Linked DNA regions of Homo sapiens. The protein of the gene in region 1 interacts with the protein of each later gene in a pairwise test. Each region holds a gene or a part of one and is shown on either strand. Other genes may lie near its edges.

Region 1 (3,814 bases):
GATGATTCACTTTGCTGGGAAGTTGATACCAGATGTTATAGGAAGATGACTCACTTTGCTGGGAAGTTGGTACCAGATGTTATAGGAGGCCTCTTCTCCTCGCATGAGGGCTGCAGTCTTTCCCAGAGCAACTGGCCCAAGAGAGATCAGGGCAGAAGCTGCAATGTCTTTTTTACCTGGTCTCGGGGGTTAGACTCTGGCATCTCCTTTGGCTCCAGGGATCAGCGTTGTTCAGTGTGGGAACATCTATCTAGGGTGTAAATACCAGGAGGTGAGAATCGGGAGGCCATCCTGGAAGCTGGTTATGGTAGCCCCGGATATTTGGAGGTGAGTCTGCCCCACTGTTTCCCCTCCTCAGGTAAGCAAGTTTCCACGGGACAGTCCTCACTTAAAGAAATAAGGCAGCTGATTGGAAGAATGTTTGACAAGCAGTTTCCCAGTGTGCTCCTCGGTACATGCACATTCCTGTTATCTGACAGCTTGCAACCCCAAGCCTCGCTCCCTTCCTCCAGCCTCTCTGTGAGGAACTCTTATCGAGCGCCCATTGGGTACTTCACCATTCCTTACTGAGGTCACCTCGGTATGAGGAAAATCGAGGATGTGGGTTACCCTCACAAGCTGGCTTCAATCCCCTCTCAGTTTTCTGACTTCAGTCCCCATGGAAAGAATCCTGGGCACCTCATCCATTGCTGGTGGCCCTGTGATGAGTCCAGGGAGTGCGGATCCCTTCGGAAGCTGGCTCATGTGCCCAGGAGGCCACTTTCTCTGCACCTGCGGCCTTGCTTCTGGGGTGGGTTGAATTGTGTACACCCAATGCATATGTTGAAGTTTAGATCCCTGGTACCTGTGAATGTGACCTAATTTAGAAAAAAGGGTCTTTGCAGGTGTAATTAGGTAAGATGAGATCATAGTGGAGTAGAGTGAGCCCTCCATCCAAAATGGCTGGTGTCCTTGTAAAAAGAGAAGAGACACAGAGACAGAGGAAAGACAGCCACGTGACAATAGGGGCAGAGACTGCTGTGATGCTAGGAGGAAGCCAGGGAGGACCCTTCCCGGGAGCCTTTGAAAAGAACACGGCCCTGCTGACAGTTTGTTCTTGGACTTCTGGCCTCCAGAACCATGAGATGATCAATTTCTATTGTTTTAAGCCCCCCAGTGCATGGTACTTTCTTACAGCATCCCTGGCAAACTGACACACCATCCAGGGAAATTACATCTGATGGTGTTGTTACTGCTTCACGACTTGGAAGCAGTTTAGCAGGAGGGGAGGTATGGGAATTGAAGCAAATCGTGTCACCTGCACTTGATATTTGCAAGTCAGCCAGTTTCTTTGAGAGAGTAAGAAAGCAATTAGAGAAGAGACTAATATTGATAATAATAACAACAATAAGAATTACTCTGTATATGTGATTAGCCAACCACTTAAGAACTTTACTTGCATTCATTAAAAAATTCCTTACATCAACCTGACGGAAGGAACATAGAAGAACAAACAGTAGATGAGGATATTATTTGACCAAGGACTCTGAGAGGAATGATGCTCGTGTACAAATGTTAGGACTTGAGGGGTCCAAGTCCTGAACCAATGAGCCGACGGAGATCCAGATATCAGCCCTCGGTGCTGGGCGGTGCTGCGCCCCTCAGGCCTCTTGCACAGACAGGGCCCTGCCTGCTGAGCAGTGGGCAGTCTCTCAGAAAGAGGCTCAGGAGGGGGCTGAGCAGTTCCTCCTCCCAGTTACCCCCGTCTTGGAGAGGCTGGGAGTGCACTCACGCAGGGAAACCCAGGGTGGCGGGGCTGCCCCTCGTGGCCACCTGGGGAGGCTTGACTTTTGCTGAGGCTGGGTTGGAGAAGGCACGGGAAACTTGGGGATTGCAGGAACCCCTTTTAATACAAGGAAGCCCAGTCAAGGATTTGTCTATGATCCAATAAGTGTTTTCCTTGTATTCAGTTTAGGGGAGGAATTGACCTGGGCATTGAGGAGCCATTTCCAGGGAGCTGGGGAGCACAGCAGGAACAGAGGGGCCAGCGCCATCTCTCCACGCACCCCCAGGGGTCAGGAGCCAGCACCATCTATCCTCCACACACTCCCGAGGGTCAGGAGCCAGCGCCATCTCTCAGCACAACCCCGTGGGTCAGGAGCCAGCGCCGTCTCTCAATGCACCCCCGGGGGTCATGAGCCAGCGCCATCTTTCCATGCACTCCCGGGGGTCAGGACCCAGTGCCGTCTCTCCATGCACTCCCGGGGGTCAGGGTGGTCACAAGGTGTCCTCTGGGTGGCACTGACTACCACCTGGAGCTGCCTTTCACAGGGAGCCCTCGCCTGCCTGCGGGGGCCTTTGGAGATGTCCACAGAGCTGAGTCTCCAGGAGACGCTGGGGAGGGTGGGTGAGGAGTGCTGACCATGGGCAGCCGCGCCGGGAGGGCCCGCACCCGACTCTGGGAGGGTTGCCTTTTCTTCATCTTCTTCCTTTTCTATTTACCTGGATCGAAATGACTTCAAATCCCACCATTTTTCAGTTTACATCCACGTGTTCTCTGCCTTGATTGTGATCATCGCTGGGGCCTTCGTCATCACCATCATCTACAGGTCGGTCCCTTTGTTCTTTACTGGGAGGGTGGGGAGGAGGGGACTCACCTCTCCTGGCCGCAGCTTCCTGCCTGCCTGGGCTCCTTCGGGCTTGGTGCTGCTGGGGTGACTGAGAACAGCTCTCCGTGAGCCTGGGAAAGGGAACTGGCCAGGCTCACGGAGGGCCCCACTGATTTTCTCCAGAGTGCTTGTTGATGAAAATCATAACCCATGTTTAGTGAGCACCTGTGCTTGTTGATGAAAATCATAACCCATGTTTAGTGAGCACCTGTGCTTGTTGATGAAAATCATAACCCATGTTTAGTGAGCACCTGTGCTTGTTGATGAAAATCATAACCCGTGTTTAGTGAGCACCTGTGCTTGTTGATGAAAATCATAACCCGTGTTTAGTGAGCACCTGTGCTTGTTGATGAAAATCATAACCCGTGTTTAGTGAGCACCTGTGCTTGTTGATGAAAATCATAACCCGTGTTTAGTGAGCACCTGTGCTTGTTGATGAACATCATAACCCGTGTTTAGTGAGCACCTGTGCTTGTTGATGAAAATCATAACCCGTGTTTAGTGAGCACCTGTGCTTGTTGATGAACATCATAACCCGTGTTTAGTGAGCACCTGTGCTTGTTGATGAACATCATAACCCGTGTTTAGTGAGCACCTGTGCTTGTTGATGAAAATCATAACCCGTGTTTAGTGAGCACCTGTGCTTGTTGATGAACATCATAACCCGTGTTTAGTGAGCACCTGTGCTTGTTGATGAACATCATAACCCGTGTTTAGTGAGCACCTGTGCTTGTTGATGAAAATCATAACCCGTGTTTAGTGAGCACCTGTGCTTGTTGATGAAAATCATAACCCGTGTTTAGTGAGCACCTGTGCTTGTTGATGAAAATCATAACCCGTGTTTAGTGAGCACCTGTGCTTGTTGATGAAAATCATAACCCGTGTTTAGTGAGCATCTGTGCTTGTTGATGAAAATCATAACCCGTGTTTAGTGAGCACCTGTGCTTGTTGATGAAAATCATAACCCGTGTTTAGTGAGCACCTGTGCTTGTTGATGAAAATAATAACCCGTGTTTAGTGAGCACCTGTGCTTGTTGATGAAAATCATAACCCGTGTTTAGTGAGCACCTGTGCTTGTTGATGAAAATCATAACCCCTGTTTAGTGAGCACCTGTGCTTGTTGATGAAAATCATAACCCGTGTTTAGTGAGCACCTGTGCTTGTTG
Region 2 (3,814 bases), on another chromosome or scaffold:
CCCCACGATGCTGCTGCCAGCAGCGCTCACACTCAGGTCGGCCAGGGACAAGGGCTGAATTTTGCACCTATACTCGCCACACCAGCAGGCGAGGGGCAGAGCATATTGTGCTGCCAGCACAGACTAGCTCTGCACAGCCTTAGCAGTGGCTTGGCTTTGTCCTGGGCCCAGACACATTCTCCAGAGAAGGGGCTGGGAGTAGGGACTGGACCACCTGGGACCTGCCTTGACACAGGACAGAGCCAGCCAGACTTGAACTAGAAGGGGCTGGGGGCTGACTTAAGCCACTCCAGGGCTTCCTCCTGGCCCCTCCAGTGTCAGTGCCGGACATGGTGCTTTGGACCAGCAGGCCTCAGGGACAGGTGCTGATAGGACACCCCAGAGGGTGTACCCTCCTGGTGTTGATGGGTGTGAGGACAGTGGGGGACTGTGCCCCTTGTCCTTGAAGCAGGAACGTTCTGGGGTGTGTGGCCAGCTCCTTCTCACAGCTTTCAGATTGTTCCCAAGGGCATGGAGCATGGAGCAGGTCCCTCGTGGTCTCTCATCAATTTGGAAGGCTCCAAATTGCCTTTGACACCCTGGTGAAAGGTTTGATACCCAGTGAGCTCCTAGCTGGGCATGAGCAGTGTAGCCATTTCCCTTCTTGGGGTCATGAACGTGCCACACTCTGCTTCTCTGCAGCACTTCTCCCCAGGCTCTCTGCCGCTGCTACCTCATTCACAGCTAGTGTTCTATGCCAGGATTGGGTGAATCATTTTAATGTACCCGGGCCCTGGGTCCTGCAAAACATATGTAGGAAATCAAAGGAAAGCCTGTCACCAGCCACAGCACCTCCGCAGCGGGAAGAGAAGGTGCAGGGTCGCACAGCCAGCCTCACTGACCTGCAGTTCCTGGCCACAGCCTCCAGTCCCTGTGAGAATGCAGTGGGCTGGGAGGGGAGGGGCTGGAAGGGCAGGGGGAGGAGACAGAAAGTGAAGGTCCCAGAACCAACTTGGAGGGAGGCCCACGGGGGGCCCGGGAGGTGGGCACTCCAGGAATAGGGCCACGGGGAAGGACAGAAGATGACGTTCCCTGACCTGTCAGTGGAGTGGGGCGGGTGGGGTCTGCATGGCAGCCCCTCCCTCTTCTTCAGACTGAACTACAGGCCTGCATCTGCCGAAGAGGGAGCGGGATCCTTTGGCATTTCATCTTGTGCTGTATGTGTCTTAAACACAAACCTTGCTATTGTTTTCCTCTGAAGAAACAGAGGATATTGAGACTCATTGTTTCAGTGGCGGGCCAGGGAGGGAGAAGCCGGCTGGGAGTGGCCTAAAGACTAAGTGGTTATTCGCCACTTAGTTAACATGGAGGAGGCTCCATGTTAACGCGCCTGTAATCCTGGCACTCTGGGAGGTCAAGGTGAGAGGATCACTTGAGGTCAGGAGTTTGAGATCAGCCTGGGCAACATAGCAAGACCCCATTTCTACAAAAAATGTAAACAATTAGCCAACTATGATGGCTTGCACCCATAGTCCCAGCTACTCAGGAGGCTGGGATGGGAGGATTGCTTGAGCCTGGAGGTCAAGGCTGTAGTGAGCTGTGATCGCATCACTGCCCTCCAGTGTGGGTGACAGAGTGAGAACCTGTCATCAAAACAAAAATCTCATGGCCATTTCCAAAGCTGACCCTAGACACAAGAGGTAACTGTCACACCCATGGGGGCCTGGATCTGGGCCTCAGCCAGCTCATCAAAGGAGCACCCGGCAGCTGTGGGAACGTGGGCAGGTAACTGTGCCTCAGTTTCTGCATCAGTAAAATTTGGACATAGCAGCACCTGCCTCACATAGCTACTGCCCCATAGCTATCAAGTGCTGTTATTATTAGTTGACTAATAATTTAAGCATCTGCTCTGAAACCAACTGGCCGACCTGTGCCGATGGCAGGGTCCGCAAGGCCCGCCCCCATCACCTTTGCCATAGGTGCCCTCTGTTCCATTCTCAGGCAGGTGCTGCATGAGGATTGGGATTGGGCCAGGCTGTGGAGGGCACACTTGACTTTTCCCTGGAGTCACCGAGTCCTGCACAGACACCACCTTCCTGGGGCCTTCCCAGTGGCTCTCCTCTCACCAAGAAGGAACAACTGAGGGCAGAGGTCAGTGTGTCCTCAGCTAAGAGCTTGATGGAGCAGCCAAGGGGTGGAGGACAGTGTGGCAGCCCCAGCCTGCCTTCTGCCCAGGGAGCAGGCTGCTTTCTAAGCCTCTCTGCATCACCCTGCCAGCCTGGTGCCAAGATGGGCAGGCAGAGCTTTGTGGATTCTGAGTGTGACACATAGCTACATCTGCCCGCAGGCGTAGGAATGAATTATCAGCAGGCTCAGATTAAAGCTTTCAAAAGCGATTTGTCATCAGTGTCAGTGTGTCGGCTGTATGCAAGGGCATCAGTTCAGGGAGGGGGCAGCCTCTGGCAAAAACCTGTGCCCTCACCTCCCCCAGCCTCCATCCTGGCCCCCAGCTGCTTGGCAGGAGGGCATAGTTGGATTGAGGGGCCTGGCAGGAAAGGAACCGCCGAGCTTATGGGTCTCAGGACTATTTCTAAAACCAGCCACAGACCTCCTTCATCTCCATCTGTGGTCAGGTTGGGGGCAGCAGTGGGAATGCTTCTTTGTTGGAGGTGACCCTTTAGGCCCGAGCTAACCCATCCCCTCCACCGGGAAGCCCACCCTTCTAGCACCCTTTCCTGGCACTCAGAGCACATCCTGCAGACCTTTGCTTATTGTCTGTCTCGTGCCTACACCCTAAGTCTGCCCACATCCCTGGCACAGATCAAGAACTCTGAAACATTTGTTCTCAGCAAGCATCGGTAGGGAAGGGGCTCGGGTCTCCTCTCTCACCTACCTAACACTGATGAATCATAAGATGAGTCCTTGACCTCAAAGGCGGACAGAGGGTGAAACTGACAAAGGCTGCCAGTCCCCAAGAGACTCTGGGAGTTCCATCTCCCTTGGACCCTCCCAGACCCTGGGCGGGCAGCCTTCTGTCGCCTCTGGCAGGTGTACACCTGTTTTGTTGGTTTGTTCACATTACTAACCTACCTGGTGACTCCCATAAATCCCTTTTGTTTTTCTTGCATTTAAGCCACTCCTGTCTGGTCCAGCATTTCCACGGATTTTGCCTTTTACAGGTGGCTTACCCAGTATTTTCACAGAACCTCTTGGTTTCTGTTTATCCTGCTGGGTAAGGCCAGCAGGTGTAGATGTGGTAGGCAGAATTTTCCATTCAAATGAAGACATGCCTATCAGAAAGCCCCTAGATTTGTGGATCTGAGAGGAGTTTTTGTGCATTCAGGAACTAGTGACCATCCTCTAGCTCATGAGGGAGGTGGGTGTTAAGTCAGCAGTCACTTTGTCCTGCTGGCAGCGTGTGCTATGGGAGAGGCTTCCCTGGGGCTCAAGGGGGGTGAGATTGCAAGCCTGAACAGGGGGCTCTTCCCAGTCCAACTTGCCTTGTTAATATAAACTATGGCCCTCCACTCAGCTCTTAGATTTTTTTTTTTTTTTTTTTTGAGACAGAGTCTTGCTCTGTCGCCCAGGCTGGAGTGCAGTGGCATGATCTCGGCTCACTGCAACCTCTGCCTCCTGGGCTCACGCCATTCTCCTGCCTCAGCCTCCTGAGTAGCTGGGACTACAGGCGCCCACCACCACACCCGGCTAATTTTTTGTATTTTTAGTAGAGACGGGGTTTCACCGTGTTAGCCAGGATAGTCTCAATCTCCTGACCTCGTGATCCGCTCACCTCAGCCTCCCCAAGTGCTGGGATTACAGGCGTGAGCCACCGTGC

Evidence for each region.
Region 2: the proteins of TEX29 (region 1) and MAL interact in binary tests that used the Homo sapiens proteins (3 or more experiments, as listed by UniProt).

The regions. Positions count from the first base shown.
Region 1 is NC_000013.11:111,337,345-111,341,158, forward strand, and holds part of TEX29 (testis-expressed protein 29), read left to right. Parts: intron 1-1,949; coding exon of another isoform or gene 1,950-2,094; intron 2,095-2,518; coding exon 2,519-2,588; intron 2,589-3,814.
Region 2 is NC_000002.12:95,032,149-95,035,962, forward strand, and holds part of MAL (myelin and lymphocyte protein), read left to right. Parts: intron 1-3,814. UniProt on the Homo sapiens protein: May be involved in vesicular trafficking from the Golgi apparatus to the cell membrane. Plays a role in the maintenance of the myelin sheath, and in axon-glia and glia-glia interactions.